Homo sapiens: one gene and its partners. The protein of the gene in region 2 purifies or fractionates together with the protein of the main gene of each other region. This does not show direct contact. Each region holds a gene or a part of one and is shown on either strand. Other genes may lie near its edges. The genes, in order: RBM28, PUM3, RPL7L1 and GTPBP4.

What was found.
Region 1: the proteins of PUM3 (region 2) and RBM28 purify together in Homo sapiens (affinity purification with mass spectrometry; 2 studies listed by BioGRID and IntAct, with this or other methods). This does not show direct contact.
Region 3: the proteins of PUM3 (region 2) and RPL7L1 purify together in Homo sapiens (affinity purification with mass spectrometry; 2 studies listed by BioGRID and IntAct, with this or other methods). This does not show direct contact.
Region 4: the proteins of PUM3 (region 2) and GTPBP4 purify together in Homo sapiens (affinity purification with mass spectrometry; 2 studies listed by BioGRID and IntAct, with this or other methods). This does not show direct contact.

Annotation. Positions count from the first base shown.
Region 1 is NC_000007.14:128,340,504-128,348,525, forward strand, and holds the start of RBM28 (RNA-binding protein 28), read right to left. Parts: upstream 3,406-8,022; 5' UTR 3,291-3,405; coding exon 3,173-3,290; intron 1-3,172. UniProt on the Homo sapiens protein: Nucleolar component of the spliceosomal ribonucleoprotein complexes.
Region 2 is NC_000009.12:2,840,991-2,848,617, forward strand, and holds the start of PUM3 (pumilio homolog 3), read right to left. Parts: upstream 3,106-7,627; 5' UTR 3,055-3,105; intron 1-3,054. UniProt on the Homo sapiens protein: Inhibits the poly(ADP-ribosyl)ation activity of PARP1 and the degradation of PARP1 by CASP3 following genotoxic stress. Binds to double-stranded RNA or DNA without sequence specificity. Involved in development of the eye and of primordial germ cells.
Region 3 is NC_000006.12:42,882,445-42,890,060, reverse strand, and holds the end of RPL7L1 (ribosomal protein uL30-like), read right to left. Parts: intron 6,611-7,616; coding exon 6,447-6,610; intron 5,449-6,446; coding exon 5,311-5,448; intron 4,088-5,310; coding exon 3,978-4,087; intron 3,806-3,977; coding exon 3,597-3,805; 3' UTR 161-3,596; downstream 1-160.
Region 4 is NC_000010.11:1,011,818-1,019,433, reverse strand, and holds part of GTPBP4 (GTP-binding protein 4), read right to left. Parts: intron 6,970-7,616; coding exon 6,772-6,969; intron 5,188-6,771; coding exon 5,122-5,187; intron 3,682-5,121; coding exon 3,538-3,681; intron 2,360-3,537; coding exon 2,207-2,359; 3' UTR 1-2,206. UniProt on the Homo sapiens protein: Involved in the biogenesis of the 60S ribosomal subunit. Acts as a TP53 repressor, preventing TP53 stabilization and cell cycle arrest.

The DNA of each region.
Region 1 (8,022 bases), on a different chromosome or scaffold from region 2:
GCCTCCAGAACTTAAGAAATAAATTTTTCTTTACAAAGTACCTAGTTTCAGGTATTCTCTTATAAGCAACAGAAAATGAATTAAGACAGTATGGTAGCTTCAAAAATCAGAACACAATAATGCAGTTACTCCTCAAAATAGATCAGCAATAAATGCCTGAGGCCCAGACAAAAGAACCTCAAACAATAAATACTGCTCAGAGAGACTGCAGATGTTATGACCACTATTACCAACGCCTTAGCTGTCGATATCAAATTAAACCTTTCCAAAGCAGCTGTGCATTCTTGTCTCATTTTATCTTTAGAACACCTCAAAATAGGTAAAGCAAATATTATCACCCCTTCTTTCCAAGTAAGTAATTTGAGATGGAAGACAGTAAGTGAATTGGTTAATGTCACACAGGGTGTTAGTAGCTGAATTAACTCCTCCTCACCAGCCCCCATGTTCTTCCATAGGACTCCACAAAGAATAATATTAGGACCAAGGAGATGAAAACTACAAATATCAACTGTAACCCACCTTTGCCCTTTTTGGTTTAACATTTTGTATAGTAAAATTTTAAATAATTTATTGCATCAAAAAGGAAAAGGACAGATCAAGAAGTCTGCCTTTACCTGAAAAGGACACATAGTTCATATGCTCTGCTTCTCTTTCCACTGCATTTGAATCTCCTTCAGGGTATAAGCCCTTTGACACAGGACACTGATCTACATAAACTGGTTAAAGCAACATAACATCAATTTTTCTCTTCTCTTGAACTCCTTATCATAAAAGCTGCCCACTCACCTTTCAGAAAATGAGCACAAGAAAATTCATAGCCCTTCATGATCAGTACAACCAAAAGTAAAGCAGCTGAAATGTAAAAGAGTTTGACACCCAAATGAAAGGACATACAGTAAATACCACACATTTTACATGTCTGCATAAAGCATGCTCACATACATTTAGAGTCCCTGACAACCCTGTGAAATTATTCCCATCTTAAAGAGGTGAAGTGACATGCACTGCTATTGAGGAAGACTTCATTCCACATACCCTCCCTCCCGTTTCACTGAGTGCAGCACTCTTTCCAGTACATATCAGCTGTCTGGATAGGAAAGTGCATAGTTTTTTAAAAGGAAGTAAGAGATTTTTAAGGATTTAGACCAAGTACACAAGGTGTAAGGTAAGATTGCATGTAGCCTATATTCTGAGGACTCAAAGGAGAACTCCCATTCAATGGCCTATTCTTCCCTGGAATACAACCACCTGGGTACGGAATGCTACTTACACTGGAACCCAGTACATACATATATTCTTTATTTAAAACTTAAAAGTTTTACAAATACTTATCCTTTACCATATATGGACGTACTCCTATACTATTTAATTTTTTAAGAACTCTAGGCCAGGCGTGGTGGCACATGCCTGTAATCCCAGTGCTTTGGGAGGCCAAGGCAGGAGGATCATTTGAAACCAGCCTGGACAACGTAGTGAGACCCTGTCTCTACAAAAAATATTCAAAAATTGGCCAGGCATGGTGAAGCACGTCTGTAGTCATAGCTACTTGGGAGGCTGAAGTAGGAGGATTGCTTGAGCCCAGGAGTTTAAGGTTACATTGAGCTGTGATCGCACCACTGCACTCCAACTGTCAACAGGGTTGACAGAGCAAGACCCTGTTTCTAAAACACAACAAAACAAACTCTAGTCATGACCCACTCAAGACCCACTAATAGGTAATAATCTGCAGTTTAATAAACATTACTGTACAGGACTTTCGGTCCCTATTTTAAGTACATAAGCTTTTGTCCTATTCTCCAACAGTCTATTGGCAACACACCAGCCAGAGAGAGAATCTTTCAAAACGAATGCCAGATCACACTTACTGCTCTCTGCTTAAAATCAGTGGCTTCCTATCTCTGAGTAAAAGCCAAAGTCCTTGCAATGGTCTATAACATCCTACATGAGGCGGGCGGATCACCTGAGGTCTCGAGTTCCAGACAACCCTGGCCAACATAGCGAAACCCCGTCTCTACTAAAAATACAAAAATTAGCCAGGTGTAGTGACACTCGCCTGTAATCCCAGCTACTTGGGAGGCTGAGGCAGGAGAATGGGTTGAACCAGGAGGCAGAGGTTGCAGTGAGCGGAGATCGTGGCACTGCACTCCCGCCTGGGCGACAGAGCAAGACGCAGTCTTTAAAAAAAAAAAAAAATCTTACATGATCTGCTACTCTAGATCTCATCTCCTAATTCTCTTCCCTTTACTCACTTCAATCCAGTCACCCTGTCCTCCTTACTACTCCTCCAATATACCAAAAACACCTCTGTTTCAGTACCTTTGAGCTTGCTGTTTTCTCTTCCTGAATTGTTCTTCCTCCGGAGAGGCATGTGTTCACTCTCTCACCTCAGTCCGTCCTTCTCTGGCCACCCTATCTATATTGCCACTCTTCACCCCCTCTCCCCACTATACACATGCACATAGACTTCCTAACCCCTTTCCCTGGCTTATTTTTCTCCTTAGCATTTGACATCATTTTCACGGTTGGCTTGTTTATTGGCTCGTTTATTGGCTCTCTTCCCCACCTTGAAGACATAAAATCAAAGATTTTTTTGGTTTGGTGTTGTGCACTGCTGCATCCCCAGGACCTACAACACTTCCTGGCACACAGTAGGTATTAAGTATTTGCTGAATAAATGAATGAACAAGTGGATAGCATCCTGGCTAAGATGTCCAGGTCTGAGGATCAAATCGGGGGTCCACTACTTAACAGCCGTACAAACTTAAAGTTACTAAATTCCCCTAAATCCCGGATTCCTGTCTGTAAAATGACATTAAGACTCTCCATCCGGTAAGATTGCTGAGAAAATTAAATGAGATAACCTGTATCAAACTGATCACTGTACCTGCCAATCAGGTGACTCTCAATAAGTCTTACTGATGCTCTAGTTAACTATTTTCATTTTTAGCGCGCATAATCAACAGAAAGCGCTATAGAAACGTAAGGGAATGCTTTGCCCTTCATAAACTGACTCCTATGAACGCATCTAAAGCAGAATCAGTTTGGAAAAGAAACTCAGTTCCCTGTCCCTTCTCTTCGGGGAGGGTAAAGAATGATACGGCTCCCTGAAGTTTGGGAAGGTGCCCTCGATCGCAGGAAACCCCAGCCCTATCCTCGACCGCCCCGCCCCTACCTTTTTCAGTCACCACGAAGCACTGCTTCACCGGCCCCACCTGACTGAACAGTTCCTCCAGCTGCTCACTGCGGGCCGAGGGCGGGAGGCGGCCCACAAATAAGGTCAGGCCGGCCATGAGACCGGGAAACCCAAAGCGCGTGAGGACGCGAGCAAACTAGGCCGGCGCACGCGAGCCGAAACGCTGGCTTTGGTAGGACAACCAAGCTCACACGCCGAGAGATTCCGGAAGTGCTCGTTGCCCAAAAGAGACCGGAGGAAAACATGGTCGGGAGGGGGATAAAAGGTTCCGGAATGAAAAAATAATGGCGCCCCGGGGCGTAGCTTCTGGAGCGGGGCTCCGCCCCCTGCCCTAGCATCGCCCTCGCCACTTTTGTGTAAACTTGGCATCAATAATTTCTACCCTAGTGTTACAGCTTTTTTAGAATTTGCCTAGCAGGCTTTCTGGTTTTTGCCGGAAGGCCTCCAAAAAGTAATTTTTTTTCTTAATATACAAAATAAAAATAAATAATTTCTACCCTGTTTAAAAATCTCACCTCCAGATCCTCCCCAAAGTTAGCAGGACAGGCAGAAGAAGTCGTTTTTGCCCCGGGCGTAACTCAGGATCTGATATACTGTGGGTGTTTGATATTTTCTGAAGTGCCTCCACAAATTCCCAGATTACGTGCATAAAACACAACCGGAACACTAACACGTAGACATAGATATATCATATACATCATTCGGACGATTCTCATTTTCGGAGAACACCAGCTGTCTGTCACCTCAGCCTCACAAACAAATTGTAGCTACTAAAATACACATAGACACAGATAGTACACAATTATTATTTCAATAAATATATACTGAGCTCTAACTATGAGCCAAGCATTAGGGATAAAACTGGTGAGCAAAGAAATGACAGGGTCCCTGCCCTCATAGAGATTACAGTCTAATGGTGGAAACAGATTTTTTTTTTTGACAGGGCCTCACTTTATCAACCAGGCCGGAGTGCACTGGCACGATCTCGGCTTACTGCAGCCTCGACCTCCCAGGTTCAAGCAGTCCTCCTGCCTCAGCCTCCTGAGTAGCTGGAACTACAGGTGCACCACCACACCCGGCTAATTTTTGTATTTTTTGCAGAGACAGGGTTTCACCATGTTGCCCAGGCTGGTCTCAAACTCCTGAGCTCAATTAGCCCCCCTTAGCCTCCTAAAGTGCTAGGATTATAGGTGTGAACCACCACACCTGGCTGGGAAGACTATTAGTCCAAAAATTCTTACAAATAAATCACAGCACACACACTGCAGGACCACATCAAACACACTCAAAGCAAACATAACATCCAACTTATACACAGAGACCTAGAACCCATGTCCTCCTAGAAACAGAAGATCTTTGTCTCAAGTCAGCTCATCAGACAGACCCAAAGCTGAGAGCTCTTAATTGGCTAGGAAATCTGGGTGCTCCTGGTTCTGGAACACAGAGAGTGTTTGCCATGCCACTGGGCTCAGGACCTGAATAGGTGCAAGAGAGCTACACCTTGCAGAACAACTAGCTCAAAAAAAAGTACCCAAGGCCATTTTTTAAATAATTTTTTTTTTAGCAGACTCTTGCTCTGTCACCCAACTTGGGGTGCAGTGGCACCATCATGGCTCACTGCAGCCTTGATCTCCTGGGCTCAAGCAATACTGCCACCTCAGCCTCCTGAGAAGCTAGGACCACAAGTGTGTACCACCATGCCTGGCCAATTTATTTATTTTTTTGTACAGACAGTTCTCCCTGTGTTGCCCAGGCTAGTCTTGAACTCCTGGGATAAACCAATCCTCCCACTACGGCCTCCCAAAGTGTTGGGATTATAGGCGTGAGCCACTGAGCCCAGCCAAATCATTACTTTTAAATGATAGTAACATGGCAGATAGAAAACTCAAAAACTTTACAGTTTTAGTACCTTTTATAAGGCACTATGGTGAAAATTAAGTTTCATGATCTCCTCAAGCCCCATTCACTTTCAATACATTTTGGATGGCTAGACGACTGGTTGATAGTGATGGGAGTGGAGATTAGGGGGACGCTAAACATCACATTTATGGAGCTCTAGTTCGAAGTAAGTAATCTATGCTTAAAATAAAACTTCACGATTATTTTTTAAAAATACAACTCACGGCCAGGAGCGGCCGTGATCCCAGCACTTTGGGAGGCCGAGGTGGGTGGATCACCAGATCAAGGGTTCGAGACCAGCCTGGCCAACATGGTGAAACCCCGTCTCTACTAAAAATACAAAAAGTAGCCGGGCATGGTGGCACATGCCTGTAATCCCAGCTACTCGGGAGGCTGAGGCAGGAGAATCGCTTGAACTCAGGAGGCAGAGGTTGCAGTGAGCCGAGATTGCACCACTGCACTCCAGCCTGGGCAACAAAGGAAGACTCCATCTCAAAAAAATATATAACTCACTTTGGGAGATCAAGATGGGTAGATCACTGGAACTCAGGAGTTCGAGACTTCTGAAAATAAAATACAAGTTTATTTTTCTTTTTTTCTGAGCAGAGTCTCGCTCTGTCACCCAGGCTGGAATGCAGTGGTGCGATCTCGGTTCACTGCAACCTACACCTCCTAGGTTCAAGCAATTCTCCTGCCTCAGCCTCCTGAGTAGATGAGATTACAGGCACCCACCACCATGCCTGGCTAATTTTTGTATTTTCAGTAAAGACAGAGTTTCACCAACTTGGCCAGGCTGGTCTTGAACTCCTGACCTCAAGTGATCAGCCGTCATCGGCCTCCCAAAGTGCTGGGATAACAGGCATGAGCCACCATACCCAGCCTAAACTTTATTTTTCAACATTAGCTCCATCAAGTTCAAAACACATTTGTAAGCAATGATACCAGCCACTTAGTCCATCTCTAAAGAACTTAAGGTCTTTGGAATTTAAGCATGTCAATGCAGTCTCTCTCTCTCTCTCTCTCTCTCTCTCTCTCTCTCTCTCTCTCTCTCTCTCTCTATATATATATATATATATATATATATATATATATATATATATATATATAATTGAAGAAAAATGTGAGCCCCTTAAAGATTTTTTAAGATTAGGAAACAAAACTAAGTCAGAAGGAGCCAAAATAGGACCTTAAGGTGGATGCCTAATGGTTTCCCATTAACACTCTTGAAAAATTGCCCTTGTTTGAGAGAGGAGTGAGCAAGAGCACTGTGATGGAGAAGGGCCCTCTCTGTTGAAGGTTTCCCCTAGGTATTTTTCTGCTAAAGGTTTGGCTAACTTTCTCAGAACCCTCTCACAATAAGCAGATGTTATCATTCTTTGGCCCTCCAGAAAGTCAGACAGAAAAAAAAAAAAATGCCTTGTAGGCCCGGTGTGGTGGCTCATGCCTGTAATCCCAGCACTTTGGGAGGCCAAGGCGGGCGGATCACCTGAGGTTGGGAGTTTGAGACCAGCCTCAGAAACATGATGAAACTCCATCTCTACCGAAAGTACAAAATATTAGCTGGGCTGTGGTGGCATGCACCTGTGGTCTCAGCTACTCTGAGGCTGAGGTGGGAGGATCGCTTGACCTGGGGAGGCGGAGGTTGCAGTGAGCTATCGTGCCACTGCACTGCACTCTGGGTGACAGAGTGAGACCCCATCTCAAAACAATAACAATAAAAATTTAAAAATAAATTTAAAAATATTACTCAGGAAAGGAAGCTTTGAAATACAAAACAGATTTTTAAGGTTGCTATGTTAATCCTATCCAGGATAAAGAGAAACAAACAGATAAAGGCAATGGGATGGATCATGTAACAAAGTTGGTTTGGGACTCCACATCCTCCTCTTCCTTCTCCTTCCCTCCTGCCCACTCCTATCACCTTAGGAATTAAAATTCCACCCCCAAAGATTAAATTGTGAGCTTCAGAACCCCAGCTAAGGGGAAGCCTTCCTAGTCCTGGCTGCAGTCTGTACAAGGAAAACAATCCTGAGAAGATTGTTCCAATATTCCTTTGTGAGACCCTCCACAAATGCTAAGTTTTAAATAGCTCTGATCCAAATCTTCCTTAATTTAGGACAAATCTAACTGTGTCTCTATGCCCATCAGGGGGCAGCAGCCACCCACAGTGCAGGGTTCTGTGCCCTTCTGGGAGGACAACAGTGCAGCTGACCCTTTCTACCCTCCCCACGGTTCAGACCTGGTTCCCCGATCTGTCTCTCAGCCCAATCCCCTCCAATCCATTTATATCAGGGCAGGCAATGGTTCTTTCCTCAGGAATATTTGCTCATCCATCTACCCAAGACACATGCAGCAATCTTTATTAAATAGCAGGTGCTGTGCTACCCTGCATCACACCAGCAATGTGGCTTCCAGGGGAAATAAACTGCTGGCCTCCTCCTCATCCATCACTGTGCAGGAGCCAGGAAAGGAAGTAAGAGAGGCCTGGGCTGTTCTCAGCCAGCCTCTTCCAGATCCCATCCCTCTAGCTCCACTCCCCCTGGCAAGCTAAACCTTCTTATAATACAGAATAGTTCTTGGCCTTAACACTTGTCACAACTATAATTAATTACTTGTGCTATTGTGATTATTTATGTCATTAGTTGTTTAACATCTGCCTTCCCCCAACAGGCTTTCAATTTCGTAAATTCATGGCTGGTGTCTACCTCGTTCACCTGTCTATTCCCAGCACCTAGTACGTCATAGGCATTCAGTAAATATTCTTTAAGAGATTGAATGAATGAATAAATGAATGAATGTGAGTTTGTCTTTCAGTCCCCACAATACCAAGACTTGGAACTGAAGGGTGTAGGCATTAGGATCTACCTGGATTCTTCCTGGGAAACCCACTCTGGGTAAGGGATGAGGCATGAGACAAAAGGAAAGGATCC
Region 2 (7,627 bases):
TACCTATATTTATTTTTATATCTATTACAATAACTTGAAGCTCATACTGATGTTTCCAAATCTAATCAAGCACCACATATTTTCCTCCAGGCATCTCCTCTTGCTCATTTGTAACTTCCTTCTCTGACAGTGAGCAACCTGCTTCCCACCATCTACAATTTATTTATACACATATTCCACCCTACTATACATGCATAGTTTCAGAATTGCTAACCTGTACCCCGTGAGAAATAAATTTACAATGACAGTACAGTGTTGACGTACAATTCTTTTTTGTATCCATTCAAAATACTTTTCCAAAGTTACTTAGAGGCTTGCATGGTGGCTCACACCTGTAATCCCAGCACTTTGGGAGGCTGAGGCAGGTGGATTACCTGAGGTCAGGAGTTCAAGACCAAACCCCATCTCTACTAAAAATACAAAATTTAGCTGGGCATGGTGGTGTTGCAAACATGTAATCCCAGCTACTCAGGGGGCTGAGGCAGGAAAATCACCTGAACCCAGGAGGCAGAGGCTGCAGCGAGCTGAGATTGTGCCACTACACTCCAGCCTGGGCAACAGAGTGAGACTCTATTTCAAATGTTAAACTACCATAGCAATTAATAAACATTTCAGACAAGATGTTTGGAGAATATATGGACATCCTACCTCCTCTTAAGTTTTACTTGCTAACTTTAGCATTCAAGTCAGTGTATTCTGCCTGCAGCAATTACTGCTGCAGGCCAAAAAAAAAAAAAAAAGGTTCTTAGATCAGCCCTTCGGCCCCTCACCCTCTTTAGTGAAGTTACATGTTTATAATATAGTTTAACTGATTTGTCACAGCCTGCATTCCATCCCCAGAAATGCTGGCAGATTTATTAAATGTGCATATAGTCAAGTTTACTCTTTCTGGTGTATAATTCCACGGGCTTCAACAAATGGCTAAGACTCATGCATCCACTACCACAGTATCTTACAGAAAAGTCCTGTCACTCTAAAAAGTCCCCTGGTACAGCTCCTTTGTATTCAACTCCTTCCCTCTTTCCTGACTGCCAATGATTAGGTTTTCACTCCTGTTTTGTCTTTTCCAGAATGGCATTCTTATACATGGAATCATACAATATGTAACTTTTTGAGTCTTGCTTTTTGCACTGGGCAAAATGCAATTTGCTTTGCTTGGGAACCCTGTACCTTCGTAATGAATCATCACATTCAATAGTGTCTCTTGGAATTCGCCCCCCTTTTTCCTTTCCCTCTATTACCCCATTCAGGCTCCTGTTACCTCTTGCTCAGTTTTGTTTAGATCCTATCTGCTTTGATCCACTTTCCGCTGCCTGATTAACCTTCCAGTAGCACACCTATTTCATGTCATTTCCATGCTCCAATAGCTTCAAAGCTTTCCCACTGCCTTCAGGAAAAAGTTCCAACTCAGGCATTCACAGCCATTCAAAATGTGGTCTTAATTCACCCCACTCATCACCACCACACAGGAGCCACTATTCTTATCAGAATAGTGAAGTTTAAAGCCATTCTCTCTACCAACACAATTTCTACCCATCCTTCAAATTCAGTTTAAATGACATTTTCTTATAGACCAACCTCTACATGTTAGCATTCCTCAAATCTTTGCCCTAGGGAACTTCCCTTCTCTCTCCACACTTCTCCCTAGGTGGTCTCATCCAATCTCCTGGCTTTTTATGCTGAGTACTCCCAAATCATGTCTCCATTATGAACTTCTCCTTGGGGTCCAAACTTGTGTATAACTGCTTATCTGATACCTCTAATTATGTGTCTAACAGGAACCTTACCCTTAATATGTCCAAAACATAATTCTCTATGTTGTTCTTTATGTTATTGTTGTTTGCCCCACAAACAACAATATACTATTTTTCCCTGCCCTATCGTCCTCCATCTCAGCCAATGGCACATCATCTACTTTACTGCTCAAGTAAGAAATCTGAGTTACCCTTGACATTTTCCTCTCTACTCTGCCACGCTGAACCATAAGTTAGTTCTCTTAAATGTCCCTTACGTCACCACCCTAATGCAAACTATTACCAATACAATCTCTTGAGCTTCCAAATGTAATACATTTTCTAAAGAGAACCAGGGCCTATTCATGATTCTCACTTGCTTACAAGTCTTCAATGTTTTCTACACATGGTAATAGGAACGGAAATGTTTTCCTATTGTACAGAAAAAAAAATTCCCCATCATGACCTTCAAGGCCCTACAGAACCTAGTTCCACTCTATCCGGCTAACTTTATCTTGTACTCTAACTATACTCCTTCCTAGCTCCCATCTCAGGAACTTAGCCCATTATCGCCTCTGCTTGAAGTACTCCCTGAGCTTCCAAATCTCCGTTTAAAGATCACTTCTTCAGACTCCACTATCTGCCAACTCAGCATCCAGTTCGTTTCCTCCCAGCACTTAGAATCTGCGTACATTCAGGCAAACCGCCTAGCACTGGAGTTGGGGTTTGTGAAGTAGCACAGACAGGCTGATCAGGCCGAGCACGGGCTGGGATTCCGGAGTGAAGCTAGTCCACTCTAACCCGGCACGCAGGGCAACGTGGTGGGAGAGAGGTCGGAGTCCCGCCCTTCTTTTTTTTTTTTTTTTTTTTTTTGAGACGGAGTCTTGCTCTGTCTCCCAGGCTGGAGTGTAGTGGCACGATCTTGGCTCACTGCAAGCTCCGCCTCCCGGGTTCACGCCATTCTCCTGCCTCAGCCTCCCAAGTAGCTGGGACCACAGGCGCCCGCCACCATGCCCGGCTAATTTTTTGTAGTTTTAGTAGAGACGGGGTTTCACCGTGTTAGCCAGGATGGTCTCGATCTCCTGACCTTGTGATCCGCCCGCCTCGGCCTCCCAAAGTGCTGGGATTACAGGCGTGAGCCACCGCGCCCGGCCAGTCCCGCCCTTCTTGCCAGGCTCCAGTCAGTCCCAAACTCCTAGCCCAGAAAGAGGCCAGAGGAGACTGCCCAGTGGACAACAGCCCCGAGAGACCTTCCCGACTTCCAGCGCCCGGCAGGGTGCGAACCCCTCCCAAGAGCGACCGCTGAGCCTGCCACACTCACCGCACACGTGGGACCGAGACAGCTCGCGCAGCGGATCCCGACCGCCTCTCCGCTTCCGCTTCCTTGCCTTGCTCCGCCCCCGGGCCGCTTTTTTTCATCTTCCGCGGCGGATCAGGGACTAAGAGGTGGAGCTTCCCAGAGAATACAAAAATTCGGAATTTCTATTGGTCCGCTGCTGTTATGCCTCCTCTTGAGGCGCGAGGATTTTGGCCCTTGCAAGAATCCGTCGGGCGGAGGACGCGACAACGGCCACGGGAAATGACGTCATTAACCCTGTGGCTTCCGTGCTGGAAAGAGAGGGAGAGCTCTTGCGAGGCAGAACAGGCTGCTGAAGGACAGACCTGGCTGGCGCGGTTAATAAGAGGCCTGCATCCCGTAGCCTGAACAAATATTGAAGTAGCTAAAGTTTCTAAAGTGTGTTAATTTGCATACTTCCTCAGCAGTCCAGCGTGGAGGATAAAAGGGGTATCTTGTGAGTCGATTTGAATTGTAATCCCGTTTTTTTCACTTGCTAGCTGTGTGGCTCTGGGAAAATTACAGTTTTTATGAGCTTTGGCTTCCTGATCAATAAAATAGAAATAATTAAGTGATACGTGCAAAGCGCTTAGCATGGAACGCTCTCAATAAATGTTTGCCATTTTTAGTGTCTGCTCGTGCCTGGAAACTGCTGTTATTCCATTTTATACTTCAGGAAATAAGATTGTGGTTAGGATATATGCCCCATTTTCCAGATGAAGAAACTGACACCACAAACTTGCTCGTGTCAAGCAACAGAATTTTATTCTTTAACTGTTCTAGAGGCAAGAATTCCAAAATCAAGCTGTTGGCAGAGCCCTGCACCTTTTGAAGGCTCTAGGGGAGAATGCTTTGCTTCTTCAGCTTCTAACGGTTCCAGGCGGTCCGTGGCCTCTTGTTGCATGACTCCAATCTCGGCCTGTCTTCTAATGGCCTTCTCCTGTGCCTGTGCCACTTCTCTGTGTGTTTTTAGGACACTGAACATTGAATTTAGAGTCCACGGGGATAATCCAAGATCATCTCATCTGGAGGTCCTTAATCACATCTGCAAAGGCCCTTTTCCCAAATAAGGTCACTTTCACATGTCCTGGGAGTTAGGACATAGACATATCTTTTGGAGACTATTCAACCCACTGCATCTGTAAAGTTGAGGAACTGGCACTTGATCCCTGGTGCCAGACTTCAGATTTTACTGTCTTCCAACTTACTCCGTTTTCTGGCCACTAAGGAGTTAGAGTTGAAACTGGTAATTTAGTAGACTGTATGCTTCTTGATGACAGGGGCCATCATTACTTTCCAGGCACTTATCTCACTATGCAGCACATAGATACTTGATAAGTTCTTGTCGTCTACCTTAACTGTTACTAGTTTACATTTCAGCTCATTTAAATCTCATAAGAACGTTTTAAATAGGTCTTTTCTCATTTTACAGAGAAAGGCAAAACATAGTAGCTTTGGTCCAGTGAGCCTGACTCTAAACTCAACGTGGCTGCCTCCGTACTGCTTTCAATAATTCAGTAAATGCTAAGAGAAGAGAATATGGAACAGGAATTGCAGGAGGCCCATCAGCTGTGCCTTTTGGGCAAATAGCATAGTAGTGGGGATATTAGACACCTTGAAACACCTGACAAGTAAATGCTGGCCAAAAAGAAAGAAAAATCGCAAAATACACCCTATCACACAACCCTGGGAAGGGATACGTTTGTGTTTTCAACTCGACAGACAGCAGCACCCCATATCCTTGAAGATAGGTCCATGCAGTTGCCTTAAGCATCTGCACCAAAACCCTGCTATTCATTTGCCTTTTCACCAGGGAGGAAAAAAAAAATGTTATCACATATCAAAGCCCTTGATTATTATTAAAAACTTTTTTATCAAGTCTTCTGTGAAAGTGGATTGATTTGGATTTTTTTTTTTTTTTTGGAGTGAATTGAAAGCATCGTGTGGTTTTGCAGAACAGCACAAAAAAAGCTTATCCTGTAATTTTTTTTTTTGTCAAGCAAACCCATTAATTCTTCAAATATCTAATGATCTAAATGTAGACCACTAGGTGTACTCCTACAAGCCTAAGATGCTCTTCTTGCGTGATACACAATTTAATCAGAGCAACTAGACTTGCACACATCCAAGAGGTTAATAACAGTACTATAGCAATGCAATGACGAGCATTGAGATTAGAATCAAAGGAACCTGGCTTACAATCTAAATTCTGTATGGCCAAGGACAAGATAGCCAACTTGTATGGGCCTCAGTTTCTGCATATGTAAAATGGGAATAACAACACTTGTTTCTGGAGTTGCTGTGAGGCTTAAAAGTGATAATATCTTAAAGTTCTTAGCCAGTAGTAAATGTTGAGTGATTTGTAGCTTAAGAGAGAACCAAGGTGTACCCATTTGAAATACTTTGGGGCCGGGCGCTGTGGCTCACACCTGTAATCCCAGCAGTTTGGGAGGCCAAGGCAGGTGGATCACCTGAGGCCAGGAATTCGAGGCCAGCCTGGCTAACATGGCCAAACCCCATCTCTACAAAAATACAAAAATTAGCCAGGTGTGGTGGTGCATGCCTGTACTCCCTGCTACTCTGGAGGCTGAAGCATGGAGAATCGCTTGAACTGGAGAGGCGGAGGTGCAGTGAGTGGAGATTGTGCCACTGTACTCCAGCCTGGGCAACAGAGTGAGACTCTGCCTCAAAAAAAAAAAAGAAAAAAAGAAATACGTTTGACTTCACATAACGGAAAGTTCAGCTAATGGTGGCTTAAGCAATCATTTTCTTAACATAAAAATTTGGAAGGTACTTGGTTGTTGTGGTTCAATGACACAACAATGTCATCAAAGACCCACGCTCTTCCAGTCTCTGTTCTACCACCATCCTCAACGTTGACTTTTTATTGTCCCATTTACTGCTTTTTGATTGCAAGATGAACTCCTCAGTTTCCATATTTATCTAAGAGTTCAGGGCTAGTGAAAGTGCAGAAAGAAATGAAATCCACTATTTCCTCCCAGTGGGGCTCCGTCCTTTTATCCCAGAAGGAAAAGACCCAACAGGAGTCTCCCTTCTATTTCAGTGCCAAGAACTGGATTACACGGCCACCCCAGAATTGAAAGACCATCAGATACAATGTTAACCAGGCATTTGGATTTCATTCTTTTTCTAGTACTCTGGTAAAATTAAAGATCACTTAGCAAATATGCTTTTATCCAGCAGTAGAGATTTAATTTGTGACTTAAGCTAATCTGGTTTAAAACTTAAAATAACTATAGTATCCCAGGTGGTGGATAGCAATCTGGGCAGCGCATTGAATCACCTGTGGAGTTTTTGTTTTTGTTTCTTTAAGTAGCAGTAGTTCTGATTTAATTGGTCTGGAATGGGACCTGAGCATTGAGAATTTGATGCCTAGATCATGCTAACATGCAGCTAAGGTTAAGACCCAGTTATTTAAGGAATGGGGTTCAAGTTTTGTTTGTCTGTTTGAGACAGAGTCTTGTTCTGTCACCCAGGCTGGAGTGCAGCGGTACGATCTCAGCTTACTGCAACCTCTGCCTCCCGGGTTCAGGCAGTTCTCCTGCCTCAGCCTCCCAAGTAGCTGGGACTACAGGCGTGCGCCACCAGGCCCGGCTAATTTTTGTATTTTTAGTAGAGACGGTGTTGGCCAGGATGGTCTTGGACTCCTGACCTCAGGTGATCCACCTGCCTTGGCCTCCCAAAGTGCTGGGATTACAGGTGTGAGCCACTGCCCCGGGCCTGTTGATTTGATATTTTAGTTAACTAGGGGTTAAATCTCCTGGTTCCTCTTTGTATTGCAGGCACCAGAATTTAAGAATTAAATATACAATATGCTTCTCTCTGTAAGTAGAACATTGGAGAGAATTGTATCTTTCTTGCTGACTGAGTTCTCCTAAAGTGATTTAATACCATTAGATGTTAAAAAATGGTTTAAATTTGAACTATACACTTTCAAACATACTCTGGAAAATGTTTGCTTCTTTTTTCAATTTCACATAATTTTGTGTAATTTTCTTTTTTCCATAAAAATAAAATAGGTTAGGTGTCAGCTCCCATACATCTTCCCCTTCCCAAAATCAGTTCTCTGGAGTTCTAATTAGTGGATTTTTAACGAATTACGTTGTTTTTCTGTTTCTCAAATGCATAAGCAGAGATAGAGGGCATGTTACTGATATAAAGCATAAGTGATATTTTGGCAAGGATTGGGCTTTATTTTCAGGACCTATTAGAATCATAAATCCATGGAAACGGAGCAGTTGCCAACACATTTTTATTTAGTGAAAAAGAACTGCTTCTGAATAGTGTGCATTATGTTTTCCAATATCGTACATTTGCTACAAAGTGCACTAATGTAGTCTAAACATTAATTGAACATTCATAATGCTGTAGTTGCTGTCTAGTAAACACAGTATTAACCTTGTCCTATTTTGCTTTCTTTGATGACAAACTTTGGAGCAGCAGAAAATTACATGGCTAAGATGTAAGTTTATCTGATTGTAGTAGTCTCACCTTAATAAAAGCTTGTGTCAGCACATGATGGAGAAATGAAATAAAA
Region 3 (7,616 bases), on a different chromosome or scaffold from region 2:
TACTCAACACTAGATTTTACTTTCTCTACAAAAGCTAGAATGTACCTGGTACGTGCTGACATGACCCTAACCCACAGACGATGTAACAGGTCTACCTTTTCTCAGAAAGGATTGTCTCACAACTTGTTCAACGAATTAGTTATGTCATGGTACATACATATAAGTGCGCAATTTTTGTAACATCTTTTATTTGTATACAATTATAAATTACAAACTTGTTTTATTAGGTTTTTTAAAATTTATTTTTCGTCAACTTAGTCCCTTTTATTTACCAGCAGTTTGCTCTGACAGAATAAATTACAAACTATTGTTTTGTTTAATCCCTTTAACCATCATGTCAGGCACACAGGTTGGAGAATATTAGCTCCCATTTTATGGACAGAGTGGAAACACTGTACCCATATTTAGTGTAAGACAGAGCTGGGATATAAGCCTTGGGCTTCCATAGTCACAACTGCTTTTTTGCATAACTTTGTAATACATCATTTTAAAGTAATCTGATTTCACAATGTTTTACAGTATAGGAGTAACATCTATAGCATCTCTTCTTGGCAGGTTACCTCTGGAGAGAACCAATCTAATTACCTCATACGCTGGCACTTTTTTTTTTTTTTTTTTTGAGACAGAGTTTTGCTTTTGTTGCCCAAGGTGGAGTGCAATGGTGTGATCTCGGCTCACTGCAACCTCTGCCTCCCTGGGTTCAAGCAATTCTCTTGCCTCAGCCTCCCAAGTAGCTGGGATTACAGGCATGCACCACCACATCCGGCTAATTTTGTATTTTCAGTAGGGACAGAATTTCTCCATGTTGGTCAGGCTGGTCTCGAACTCCTGACCTCAAGTGATCTGCCTGCCTCAGCCTCCTGAAGTGTTGAGATTACAGGTGTGAGCCACCGTGCCCAGCCTAAGCTGGCATGTTTTAAGGCAGTTACATCTCTAACTTGATTTACCAGCTATGCTTGAGGGTCCAAGGAGCCAAAATTGCAGCCAAACTGATCTTAAAGGACCAGGGAATAGAATGGTCAAGCATGTTTCCAAGTTTAACCTAGGCCTGGCACATCCTTGCCAATTGCTCAGATGGCAAGTGAGGGGCAACTAAGTGAAGAGAATAGCAGGAAGACCCACTTGGGGTGGACACTGATGAAAAACACAAGCAGTATCAGACTCACTGTTTTCAGGATTAAAATCCCCAGATGCCCTGTTATTGGTCTATGTCACTACCAGTAGGACAAAAGGCAATGCTTCTGAAGACTAGAATATGCAAGGAAAAAATTAAGGTGCCTGCCTGCCTGGGGCCTAACGAGCCAAACAGTGCTAATTTCATCCATGCCAAACAAAATTGTTCATTCCTTGCTGATTTGGGTTTTAAGGAACCATGCTGATCATCAGAGAAACCAGGCAATTCTATTCTGAAGCCCAGGGGAAGAAATGGTGGGGATTTCTGAGTTACAGATGGTGCAGGGGTTAACACTATCTGCCACTATGAAGGGAAAAATCTATCTTGGTAAACTTTGGTCTTCCATAGGACATGGAACCAGAGTAGCAAGATCAGGGCCTGCGTGACCGATCCTGATTGAGCAGGACTTCCTCACATAAGGTACACAAGAGCTGGGCGCAGTTGCTCATGCCTGTAATCCCAGCACTTTGGGAGGCCCAGGCTTGTGGATCACTTGAGGTCAGGAGTTTGAGACTAGCCTGGCCTACATGGTGAAACTCTGTCTCCATCTCTACTAAAAATACAAGAATTAGCTGGGTGTGGTGGTACATGCATGTAATCCCAGCTGATCAAGGGGCTGAGGCAGAATCACTTGAACCCAGGAGGTGGAGGCTGCAATGAGCTGAGATCATGCCACTGCGCTCCAGCCTGGGCAACAGGGTGAGACTGTCTCAAAGAGAAAAACAAAACCCATAAGATGCACAGGTATCTGAGAAGGGTCTAAACACCCTAGAACTGCAAGCAAAATTTTGAGTGTATACATGTTTTCCTGGCGAAGGGGTCCTCATTCTCAAATCCTGAGCTTTTAGGAAAAAGTACTAAGCCAGTTTCAGGTTACGATACAAAAGCCACCAGATACACTTAGAGCCAGTCAAGTTTGAGAATTCTCAAAGCCATCACTGAAAAGTTGGAACACATACTCACAGCAGAGACAAGTGAACATTTATTTTTATGCCTTTCTTCCTATGTGTATTTCAAGTCTTTTTCAAAACAAGGCCCCAGGACTCTCCAGATTCAATTATGTCCTTGGGCTTGGTCGACTGCTGCAGGAGTCTCAGGGAGCCTTCTACAAATGCTAGAGTGACTCATTTACCAACATTAAACCCTAGGATACATGCAACAAAGCAGGACTCCTTCCTCCATGGAATGTGCCGATTTCAGATGACACAGCACCCAATGCAGAAAACACTGGAATTTTTCCTTGGAACTCGACTGTGATGAGAGGTGCTTGACATGAACATATGCTACTGTCTTTTCTTTTTTTTTGAGACAGAGTTTCGCTTGTTGCCCAGGCTGGAGTGCAATGGCGTGATCTCAGCTCACTGCAACTTCCACCTCCCAGGTTCAAGCGATTCTCCTGCCTCAGCCTCCTGAGTAGCTGGGATTACAGGCACGTGCCACCATGCCCGGCTAATTTTTGTATTTTTAGTAGAGATGGCATTTCTCCATGTTGGTCAGGCTGGTCTCGAACTCCCAACCTCAGGTGATCTGCCCACCTCAGCCTCCCTAAGTGTTGGGATTACAGGCATGAGCCACCACGACCGGCCAGCTACTGTCTTTTCTTTGACCCTTTCCAGTTTCTGAAGATAAAGCAGGAAATAATCTTCTCTGAAGATACTTGATAAAAATTTCCAAAACAAAACACATGCTTCCACTTCACTGATAAAAAATTTACCGCAGTTTGGCACCTAAGAGTATGACAACAGCAATAAAAAGTAATTTCAAAGAGTTAAGATTTCTTCAGCAAAATAGATGATTCACATCTTCAAGTCCTTTTTGAAATCAGTTATTAATATTATTCTTTCCTCATTTCCATCTGAATGACTGCAGCAATAGTTTTTTTTTTTTTTTTTCCGAGATGGAGTCTCGCTCTGTCGCCCAGCTGGAGTGCACTGGTGCAATCTTGGCTCACTGCAATCTCTGCCTCCTGGGTTCAAGCGATTTTCCTGCCTTAGCCTCTCGAGTAGCTGGGACTACAGGCACGCGCCACCACACCCAGCTCATTTTTGTATTTTTAGTAGAGACAGGGTTTCACCATGTTGGCCAGGATGGTCTCAATCTCCTGACCTCATGGTCTGCCCGCCTTGGCCTCCCAAAGTGCTGGGATTACAGGCGTGAGCCACCGCGCCCGGCCAGCAATACAGTTTTTAGTTACTCGACATCTTTAAGCCTATAACTCTTAGGCTATGCATAGCCCCATGTCCTAATCAGGCATTCACTGATCCCAGCAGGTCTCCATCTATTTGTACCAGCCTCCTCTATTCCTCCCAATCTCAAGGTTACTCTTAAATACTAGTAAATGCAAAAAGAACTTGTAAAGTGGCAAGGCATGGCCTATCAAAAGTCAGCCCAAGGGCAGTTTTCAGCCCTGCCTCACCTGGGTCTAGTTCAGCTGACGGATGAGCTGATTGATGCGTTCACCCCGATAGCCAGGTGTGCCCATCTCCTTGAGGAAGCCCACTCTATTTTTGGTAGCATGACGGGCCACTGAGAGGTGGAAAGGGCACAAGAACCATGAGATCTCCTGGAAATGCTTCCCTGGGAAGGCAATTTCATGAATGAGGTCTTCCAAGCAAATGACGCCAAACTTCCCTAAGAAACACAAAAGCACAGATTCCTTTATTTAACATGTATCCAGCATATACTAAGCTGGCCACTCTGGCAGACTCTTGGGGCCCCAAGAAGAATACAACCTGAATCTCACATCAAAGCTTCAAAGACCCTGGCTTTCTGCCCCAGCTGATCCCTAAGCTGTAGCACTCACCCAGGTGCTCCTCAATCACTGTATTGTCTGTCAGAGGGATGGTCTTATTCTTGACCTTGGCTTGTCCACGTTTCAAAATGAGTTCTCGGACAGACTTCAGATTTGGAAATCTATGTAGGAAAATAAAGCACGGTTTTCACCAGCACCTGGCACACTACATACCAGTCCTGCAGCCTGGCTGAGAGGTTGGAGAGGTTCTCCCACACACTCACTTCTCCCAACGAGCAAGTGTTCTGCAATCACATTCCAGCTGAAATGCTTGGAAATACTCCTGATAAAGAACTGAAGTGACCCCACTTACATAATTAGAAATTTAAATTTATGGATGTAAATGTTCACCAGGGAAAATATTGCCAACAAAAACAAAACAGAAACCATGTCCTAGCTTACCTTAGGGGCTACGACTCTGGCCTTAGGTGACCCTCTACTCAAGATGGTGCAAGAGTTGGAAATAAAATCCAAGTTTTTGTTGGGTTTCAATGTTTGAGGAATACTACTCTTTTTTTTTTTTTGAGACGGAGTCTTGCTCAGTCTCCCAGGCTGGAGTGCAGTGGCACGATCTCGACTCACTGCAAGCTCCGCCTCCCAGGTTCATGCCATTCTCCTGCCTCAGCCTCCCAAGTAGCTGGGACTACAGGTGCCAGGCTAATTTTTTTTGTATTTTTAGTAGAGACGGGGTTTCACCATGTTAGCCAGGATGGTCTCGATCTCCCGACCTCGTGATCCACCGTGTCTGGCCTTTTTTTTTTTTTTTGAGACAGAGTGGATTGCAGTGGCACAATCTCAGCTCACTGCAACCTCTGCCTCATGGATTCAAGCGATTCTCCTGCCTCAGCCTCCCAAGTAGCTGGGAATACAGGCACACATCACCATGCCTGGCTAATTTTTTTTGTATTTTAGTAGAGACAGGGGTTTCACCATGTTGGCCAGGATGGTCTCAATCTCCTGACCCTGTGATCCACTCCTGACCGTGTGATCCACCCGCCTCGGCCTCCCAAAGTGTTGGGATTACAGGCATGAGCCAGTGTGTCCGGCCAGGAATACTACTCTTACACATGCACTGCCTTTAGCTCTGCTTTAAGACTTTCAAGAACCAAGCTTTCCTTGACCCAGCCTTAGCCTATGACTGAACCAGCCCTACTATGGTATTGTTCAGACCCCTCCCTACCCTGTGTCCCATGGTTATTACAGCTACCCACTGATTTCAGGTTGACTGTGGTCACAGCAAAATGTCCCTTCTACAGCAACATGAGCCCTGGAAAGCAATACCCGGTGCACCCTGACACACTCAAATAGAAATCTAATGTGAATTCACATGGAAAACCTTACTTACCCCCAGGTCACATAAGGTTCCACTATACGCAGCATTTTTAGATTCTGGGGGGTGACTTTTACAAAGACACCACTAAAAATTTTCTTTAGGCGAAGTCTTGCAATGGTTCTCTGCACCAGTAAACTCACGCCGTCAATCCTGAAATGAACAGCAACAGAAGTCAGACAGACTCCCTCCAGTTTATGTCAGTCCAGCAAGCACAACATGCGAGGTCACTACACTGGGTAATCTGGAATAAGACACAGAGACTATGCCTTAAAGAGCTCAGTTTAGTGGGAGGCGGTTATGAAAACAGATCCTTTTCATAATGTGGAGCAGTGCCTGGAATGCTATGGAAATTGAACTTGTGTGTGTTTCAGGGGTAGGCGGAGTGGTGGTATGTAGGTCTACACATGTCCAGCTAAGGAAGCTGGATGTGCTTCTATGGGCAGTAAAAGCTACTGAAGATTTTAAGCAGAAGAGACCAGACCAGATTTCTTTCTGACAATCACCAAGGGCAGTGTATGGGACAGATCACAGTATGACACTAGAGGCAAGGAAATCCAGGAGGAAGGTTAATACAATAGTTCAGGAAAAATATGAGCAGTGGTAGAGGGCTACAAAGGACAGAGCTCATAAACATGCAAAATCCACAGGTTTCTGGTTTGGGTGATTGGGTAGGGGAAACAGCAAGAAGTAGAGTTGTACATGGGGTGGGCAGGGGGTTGGGAAAGTTCCACTAAATGAGGAAAAATGTCTCCCCTTCACTGAATATGCTTCATCCACTCAGCCTTGTTTCAGTTCCTAGAATGATGCCTTGCTTTCCCTACCTCAGGACTTCAGCACGTATGCCTGAAAAATCTCCCAACACTGGTGAACGCCTTTCACATCTTTCAGGTCTCAGGTTGAAGTTCCTGCTTTAGAGAGGGTGTCCTCAACCCCTCTCCCTAGTGAGCACTTTACCCTCATAGCACTTATTTTCAAGCCTATCTGTCTAAGGTCTTCCAAATATTGCAGACTAAATTGTGCTCAACCCTGACATCCTAGCACAATTTGCCTGAGTGGCTTGGGGCATATTATCTCCCTAGAAAGGGGTCTAAAGCTTAAGCAACACTTTGCCCCAGCCTCATGCAATTAGAAAGACACCAGTTCCTTACCTTTCGATGCGTACAACAAAGGCCAAGGAATGTTTATCTGGCAATTCCAAGGCATGAGGTTTCACTTCTAGTCGTCTGAGACGCACCTTGTCACGTTTCTGCCGCCAGGAATCATGTAGGAATGATTCCAGTCGCTTAAACCTGAGCCCTTTTCCTTTCTTCTGCTACAGAGAAGACAGACCATCATCATCATCTTGTGCCTCCATACATTTTTACTTTTAGAACAGTAATTCATAAGTGACAACTGATATAGCTTATTTCCCCGTGTTCCACAATGCGAAGCAAAGCAACATTCTCTATTTTCATATAAAGGAAAAATGAGAAACCAAAGTAAAGGTGGAGTTGAGGAAACTTGGGAATTATTGGGAAAAATAACGAACAAAAAATTAGTTTACATATTAATCAGTGTTTACTAACAAGTTTCCTTAAACTCCACGCCAGCATTTGCCTGCAGGTGTTAAATATTTGCTAAATGAAGACATAAACCATATACACTTGGTGCTCTGCATCTGTGATTCAACCAACCCCAGATGGAAAATACTTTGGAGGAGCACATACAGTAGCTCACCCTGTAGTCCCAGCTACTTAGGAGGCTGAGGCGGGAGGTTCTCTTGAACCCAGGAATTCAAGGCTGCAATGAGCTATGATCCTGCCACTGCACTCTAGCCTGGGTAACACAAGACCTCACTCCTTGTTCTTTTTTTTTTCTGAGATGGGGTCTCGCTCTGTCGCCCAGGCTGGAGTGCAGTGATATGATCTCGGCTCACTGCAACCTCTGCCACCTGAGTTCAAGCCATTTTCCTGCCTCAGCCTCCCAAGTAGCTGGGATTACAGGCATGCGCCACCACACCCGGCTAATTTTTGTATTTTTAGTAGAGACAGGGTCACCTTGTTGGCCAGCTTGGTCTCAAACTCCTGACTTCAGGAGATCCACCTGCCTCAGCCTCCCAAAGTGCTGGGATAACAGGCATGAGCTACCACACCTGGCCAAAGACCCCACTTATTTTTTTTTTTTTTTTTTTGAGACAGGGTTTTGCTCTGTCACTCAGGCTGGAGTGCAGTGGCACAATCTCAGCTCACTGCAACCTCCGCCTCTCGGGTTCAAGCAATTCTCCTGCCTCAGCCCCCTGATTAGCTAGGATTACAGGCGCATGCCACAGTGCCCGTCTA
Region 4 (7,616 bases), on a different chromosome or scaffold from region 2:
AAAACAGGGCAAAAGGGGCACTTGATTGCCCATCATGTATAAATCACTATTTCAACCTTTTCATCAACTTTGTCATATCTTCATTTTCCCTTTTCCTTATTTCCATATTTCTCATCTGCCTGGTTGCAGGGAGGAAATTTAACATTTCCTTTGTCCCAATTTCCATTTTATAAGCACTTGTTTGATTAACAGCAGCTGATCCTGAAAGTCTTGGGGAGATCTTGAGAGTCCTGAAGCAGGCGGACTAGCCTGGCTGGACCATGAGGCTGTCTCCCCACAGCTTTATCCAAGCCTCCAAGGTCAGGATGGGATCTCTGTATCATGTTTTTCTTTTTAAATCACTTATTTCAGAGTGCAACACAAGGCTGCATTTTTAAAAAAAAGACACATTCAATCTTGCATCCTAATACAAGCAGTACGGAAGATGCGTATGGTCTCAGCCAAGTGACTCGACGTTTATCCACTTCTGTTCATTTGATCGTTTCAGTAATATGCTTACAAATAAAGACATACTTGCTTTAAAACATACTGTTGTTGTTTAACACAAAGTAAACTATATGTTAAGTTTTGGTGTTTAATACGGAGAAAGAATTTCAAAAACCAGACCTGGTATTTTTTTTTTTTTTTTGAGATGGAGTCTCGCTGTCGACCAGGCTGGAGTGCAGTGGTGCGATCTTGGCTCACTGCAAGCTCCGCCTCCCGGGTTCAAGCCATTCTCCTGCCTCAGCCTCCCAAGTAGTTGGGACTACAGGCGCCCGCCACCACACCCAGCTAATTTTTTGTATTTTTAGTAGAGACGGGGTTTCACCGTGTTAGCCAGGATGGTCTCGATCTCCTGACCTCGTGATCCGCCTGCCTCGGCCTCCCAAAGTGCTGGGATTACAGGCATGAGCTGCCGCGCCCGGCCATACTGTTGTTGTTTAACACAAAGTAAACTATATGTTAAGTTTTGGTGTTTAATACGGAGAAAGAATTTCAAAAACCAGACCTGGTATTTTTTTTTTTTTTTTCACACGGAGTCTCTCTCTGTCACCCAGGCTGGAGTGCAGTGGCACGATCTCGGCTCACTGCAACCTCCGCCTCTGGGCTCAAGCAATTCTCCTGCCTTAGCCTCCCGAGCAGCTAGGATTACAGATGCCCACCACCACGCATGGCTAATTTTTGTATTTTTAGTAGAGATGGGGTTTCACCATGTTGGCCAGGCTGGTCTCGAACTCCTGACCTCCTGATCTGCCCACCTCGGCCTCCCAAAGTGCTGGAACTACAGGCTTGAGCCCCTGCGCCCAGCCCAGCCCTGGTAAATTTTTAAAATTGCCACATGTAATCCAGAAGTGTGATTAACTAAAGTCCTTTCCTCAGCTATAATGTTGATTGTGTGACTTGATAACTTATCCGTGGTGGCTCTTGGACCCCTGTGTGTCTTTGGAGCTCCAGGAGCACACGGACCCCTGGGCAGGTCCCTCCGACCCCACAGCTCTTCACCCCAACGCTCCCCAGCAGGTGCTTTTGAGGTGGCATTGGCGGTGTTTTTGTGTTTTACTGAACATGTAACTTCAGGGACGGGCCACAGAAATAGGAGAATGCCCATATTTAATTGCCTAATGCCTCCAGCAACATTTTACTCCCCCAAAAGTATTTTTGCTTTAAAACAAAATAGAAATGTCATGTTGTTTGCCTTTTTATTTGGCCAAATCCATAGCGACTATAACTAAACCAAAACATGAGCTAAGTAAATGAAAACTACTTTCTTCTGGAGGTTTATTTTGGATAAAATAGTTGAAGACAGACTACAATGAGACATTGTAAAATAAGACTAGAAAATAATTTAAGAGCGTATTTTAAGCACGGGATTCCGACACACTCATAAACGTGTTTGCTCCCAGCTCTTACAAAAGAAAATAAGGTTTTTCTCCATCAAAAACAACCTAGTTAAACCAGTAAATCTTCCCAGTTCTGAAAATCTGAAGCAACTGATACTCCATTAAATGTGGAAACACTGTCTACTCAAAATATTTGTAATATTATGCAGTGACAAAAATTTCCCACACCTATATAGGGTTAACCATAGTTTTCAGCAAAGCAACAAGTGCTTTACTTATTTTGTCTTTTTCAGTTTATACAGAGCTCCAATTTCATGAAACCATACTGTGCCAAACCAGGAAATAAACAGCAACACTCTAGCGAAGCCACGCCAACCAAACGGATACTATCTCCTGTCCTTTTTACCAGCTTTCCTCTTCCCAGACAGCAAGTGCTTGGGCTTCATATCAAACACGTGTCTATCCGCCTCCCCTTTCTTCCCCAACCGATTCATCTTCTTCTGAGCATTCTTCATCATAGTCTTGGCTTTCTTCACCATCTAAAAGGAGGAGAAAAAAATAAAGTATGTTCATTACTTAAAACCAATTTTCCATTCTGAATTTCAACTACTGGGTAACAATCTGTTTAATGGCTCAGGTCTGCTCAGCGAAGAGACCCTGTTACATCTCTTTTCTCTTAAGCCCAGCACAGTTATCCCTGTTACATCTCTTTTCTCTTAAGCCCAGCACAGTTACCCCTGTTACATCTCTTTTCTCTTAAGCCCAGCACAGTTACCCCTGTTACATCTCTTTTCTCTTAAGCCCAGCACAGTTATCCCTGTTACATCTCTTTTCTCTTAAGCCCAGCACAGTTATCTGCAGGAACTCAATGAGTATTTTTGTATAAAGACTGGATGAAAATCATACCCAGGACAAGCTTTATACCCAGGACTAGATACACTTTAGACCTAGAAGGTTAGCACACATCTGTTTTAACTCCCTCTTACACAAGCTAAGGACTCAGGCCCATGAACCTGTTTTCCTCAGGTCTGACTGACAAGTGGCAATGCCAATATTAACAGCCAGGTTTCAAGATGGCAATGGCACAGAGGAGTGAAGCTCAGGCTTCCATGAAGGAGACTGCAGTTTATACACAGACTCTCCTGCATCTCCATTACCACAACGCTGAAACTAAAAGTTGTTGTGTTTAATAAAAGGACGTTTCAGCAAGACAGACTGTGTCCATCTTAAGTGTCTTTGCCAAAAGACGCTACAAATAAACTAAATGTGACTCAAGCTCTCCACCTGGGGGGAACAATCCTGCAACCTAAGGATGAGCAGGATCACCCGCCAATCAACCCAGGAGTTCCCTCTGCTGTTCCTCCCATGGGGGGCTTGCTGGACTTGAGGCCTCCTGGTGCTCAGCTGTGGCCACTTCCTGGCCCTCTTCAGACAGCAGGGTCTAAGCCCAGACTGCTAGTGCTGTCAGACCATGCTCTGGCCACCCTCCGCAAAAGCAAAGTGCCAAGGAGGGGTCCATCCAGGGCAGCTGTCAGGGGCATCCACCTGCACCCTGACCCGTGCTCTCCTCTAAAGGATGCCACAAAACGAGGGCATGCAGTACACACAACCCCTGCCATAGTTCCTGCAAATGGCAACTGCTGGTGTTTGCCCTGAACCCTGTGCAATAAACAACAGAGACTGTCATTTTATTACATTACACAACACAGAGACTGACCTTGACATCCCTAAGACCAGAAACGTCACGTGGAGTTCGAGAGCAACTCCCACTCCGGGCCACAGAGGACGGGGGAGCAGAGTCTTCCCGCTTTCTTTTCCTAGTGATGCTCCGGGATCTTCTTGCCTGGACTGCGTAATGGGCCTGCAAAGCAGGGGAAGCAATGCTCAGCGCTCAGGACCCCAGGTCCACTCCCAGGCTCAGTGCTCAGCGCTCAGGACCCCAGGTCCACTCCCAGGCTCAGTGCTCAGCGCTCAGGACCCCAGGTCCACTCCCAGGCTCAGCGCTCAGGACCCCAGCCCCGCTCCCAGGCTCAGCGCTCAGGACCCCAGCCCCGCTCCCAGGCTCAGCGCTCAGGACCCCAGCCCCGCTCCCAGGCTCAGAGCTCAGGACCCCAGCCCCACTCCCAGGCTCAGCGCTCAGGACCCCAGCCCCACTCCCAGGCTCAGCGCTCAGGACCCCAGGTCCACTCCCAGGCTCAGCGCTCAGGACCCCAGGTCCACTCCCAGGCTCAGAGCTCAGGACCCCAGCCCCGCACCCAGGCTCAGCGACAGGCATGAGGTCACTCCAGCAAGAGGGGAGGAGAGGAGCGTCTGAACCATTAACACATGGGCTAAAGGTCTTGAAAATACACGCAGTATTTTCATATTAGTGACACCATTTCAAGTTCACATTAGTAACAATTTCACATTAGTTGTTGGTCAAATATTCTTATTCACTTAACGGAAGCTGCTTTACGTAAGAAAGCTGATTTTAACTCCACTTAAAGAAACTTAGAACTCTCATTTAAAAGTGATTATTATAGTATAGCATCACAATTTATATTTCAGATATAAACAATGCTCTCTCCCTCACTGCCCCATTTTGGGGGTTACTGATATGAACACAAAGGGACAACCATCAGACAGAAACCATCAGACGGAAACTGCAGACTGCACATCTAGAGGACAGGGTCTGCAGCCACACCCTGGGCACGTCATGGTGCTGTCTCGTGCTGGCTGTGGAGCTTTTTTTTTTTTGAGACACAGTCTTGCTCTGTTGCCCAGGCTGGAGTGCAGCCTCAATCCACCACTTCAACCCAGACCCAGGGTCAGGGAATCCTCAACCCATCACTTCAAGTCAGTCCCAGGGCCAGCGAATCTCAAAAGAGAAAAACTGGAAGCTCTCATTTCTTTTTGCTGTAATTTCCCACGTTCCCACGGCTTTCCAAAACCCTGGTTTCTTTCTTTCTTTTTTTTGAGATGGAGTCTCACTCTGTCGCCCAGGCTGGAGTACAGGGGCACGATCTCAGCTCACTGCAATCTCTGCCTCCCAAGTTCAAGCAATTCTCCTGCCTCAGCATCCTGAGTAACTGGGATTACAGGCACACGCCACCACGCCCGGCTAATTTTTTGTATTTTTTTTAGTACAGACTGGGTTTCACCATGTTGGCCAGGCTGGTCTCGAACCCCTGACATCATGATCTGCCCGCCTTGGCCTCCCAAAGTGCTGGGATTACAGGCATGAGCCACCACGCCCGGCCAGTTTTCTTTATTAAAAAGGTGTATCCAGCCACATAAACACATGAACCGCCCCCACACTCACATCGTCTTTATCGTCCATGTCAACACCAAGACTACGCATCTCCTTCTCCAAAACTGTCCTCTGAACCTGAGAAGGATAAAAAGAAATATTAGCTTTAAATTAGTTTGATGAAATGTTGAAAAAAACTTCAAGGCAATATATATGTATACATATTTTGCAACAATTATAATATACTTATTTTAGAAGTTGTAATTTTTATTGGGCCCCGCTTTCATGTTTTTGGATAGCTCAATTAAATCCCACGAAAACTAACATTAACAGAGCAGTTGCTGTGGGAAGAATCAGCGTATCCTCCACGTCTGTCCATTCTTCACCGCAACACGGGGGAGAGAGTGACCGTCTCCATCAGAGGTGAGACACTAAAGCTGAGGTTAGTGAGGTGGCCTCAGACAAAGGCAGTGCGCCAACCTCTCTCCTCCCAGAGATGGCTGAGCCCCACCTGGAGAAGTACAAAAATGTCCAAGTCCGCCATAACCAGTCACTTGCCACCATGTGAAAACAGTGTATTCAAACAGGAAGACCCACTGAGAGGCATCCTGAATGTCAAGTGACTTCTCTGGTTACATGTTAACTGCCCTGCATGTGGGCTTTCTTCCCCCAGTCCCACCCTGCCACAGAGCCAATAAATTGCCTTTTGTAGACTGCGTCAGGTTTCTGTAAATTGCTAAAGAGTCCAGATTTTTTTTTAAATTTTTTATTTTTTGAGATGGAGTCTTGCTCTGTTGCCCAGGCTGGAGTGCACTGGCACAATCTCGGCTCACTGCAAGCTCTGCCTCCCGGGTTCACACCATTTTCCTGCCCCAGCCTCCCGAGTAGCTGGGACTACAGGCGCCCGCCACCACGCCCAGCTAATTTTTCTGCATTTTTAGTAGAGACGGGGTTTCACTGTTTTAGCCAGGATGGTCTCAATCTCCTGACCTCGTGATCCACCCACCTCAGCCTCCCAAAGTGCTGAGATTACAGGCGTGAGCCACTGCGCCCGGCCTAAAGAGTCCAGATTTAATGCAGAAATTAAAGAACAAGAAAACCAGCCGGGCGTGGTGGCTCACGCCTGTAATCTCAGCACTTTGGGAGGCCAAGGCAGGCAGATCACTTGAGGTAAGGAGTTTGAGACCAGCCTGGCCAACATGGTGAAACCCCATCTCCACTAAAAATACAAAAGTTAGCCAGGCGTAGTGGCAGGTGCCTGTAATCCCAGCTACTCGGGAGGCTGAGGCAGGAGAATTGCTTGAACCCGCGAGGTGGAGGCTGCAGTGAGCCAAGATGGCGCCATTGCACTCCAGCCTGGGAGACACAGCAAGACTCCATCTCCCCCCTAAAAAAAAGAGAGAGAGAAAAAAGAAGAGGAAAATGTTCACTGATAGCCTTGAACGTCTGTGAACCATAAGTTACAGTTTTAATCTGTACAACTGCAAAATGACTGGATCTAGAGTAGTGCCAAACTCGAAGCTGAAAGTCACCAAGAAAGGACGCAGTAAAGAATATAAAAGATCAATACGTGAGCGATCTTGCAAATCCATACACCAATAAAACAAGAATGTGCAATCTTATGGCCATAAATGGGTTGAAAAGTTGTTATTTAGCAATGATCACACAGGAATCCAATTTTCAAAAACTAGATCACACTGCTTTGGAAAGACACAAACTTGCCTTCTTAGCAGTTCGCGGCATCCTGGGTCCCTGTGTATTCTTTTCTTTGGACTCCAGAATTTTCAACTTCTTTTTCTCTCGAATTTGCTTTGCCAGCTGTCGGATTTCCAGCATCTCTTCGTCTTCACTCTCAGATACACTGTCATACTCTCCAGCAGCTGTTCTCAGCTCTTCTTCTTTTTCTAATTCTTCCAATTTCTTTAAAAATGGAGTTGTAATGAAGCAAAATTAACAATGAGAAAACCCCTGAGTCAGTGAGTGTGGCAGAGTGTGTATGGGAGCTTTGTTTCCCTGACTCAGAGGAGAGCGATTGCCCTGGTCCAGACCCACCTGGGCCCTGCCTATGTGCCATTTACCTCACAGGGAGGGTTCTGTGAAGAAAATGGAGACCACGTGAACGCCAGCCGCCAGCAAGTCAGTAACCCCTGTGCACCATTTCCTTTTTTTAAAACAATTAAATTCCAAGGCTAAAAATGTGCAGAGACCGCCTCCTTCACTTCCAATGCTCCCGGCAGACACACACAAGGAACTCAGTCCTGAGACACTGATTTCGTGCCACATCCCACGTGTCCGTTCTAATGTCACCCCAAATACAACCTCACTGGCTACAAATAAGACAAAAATGAAAACTAAAACACACACGTTTATCACCCCCCAATGAGGCAACCCGGCCAGGAGCCCAGCAGGCAGATGTGCCTGTACGAGATGCTGGCCAGCAGTGCAGAGGGTGAGACGGGGGCCAGGCCTCGTGGAAGGGGATGGCACGGGCACAGCTGTGCGGAGGAGGGAAGTCTCAAGGCTTCTTGCGCCCAAGAGCGCGCACTGCAGAGGGGAAGAGGCTGGGA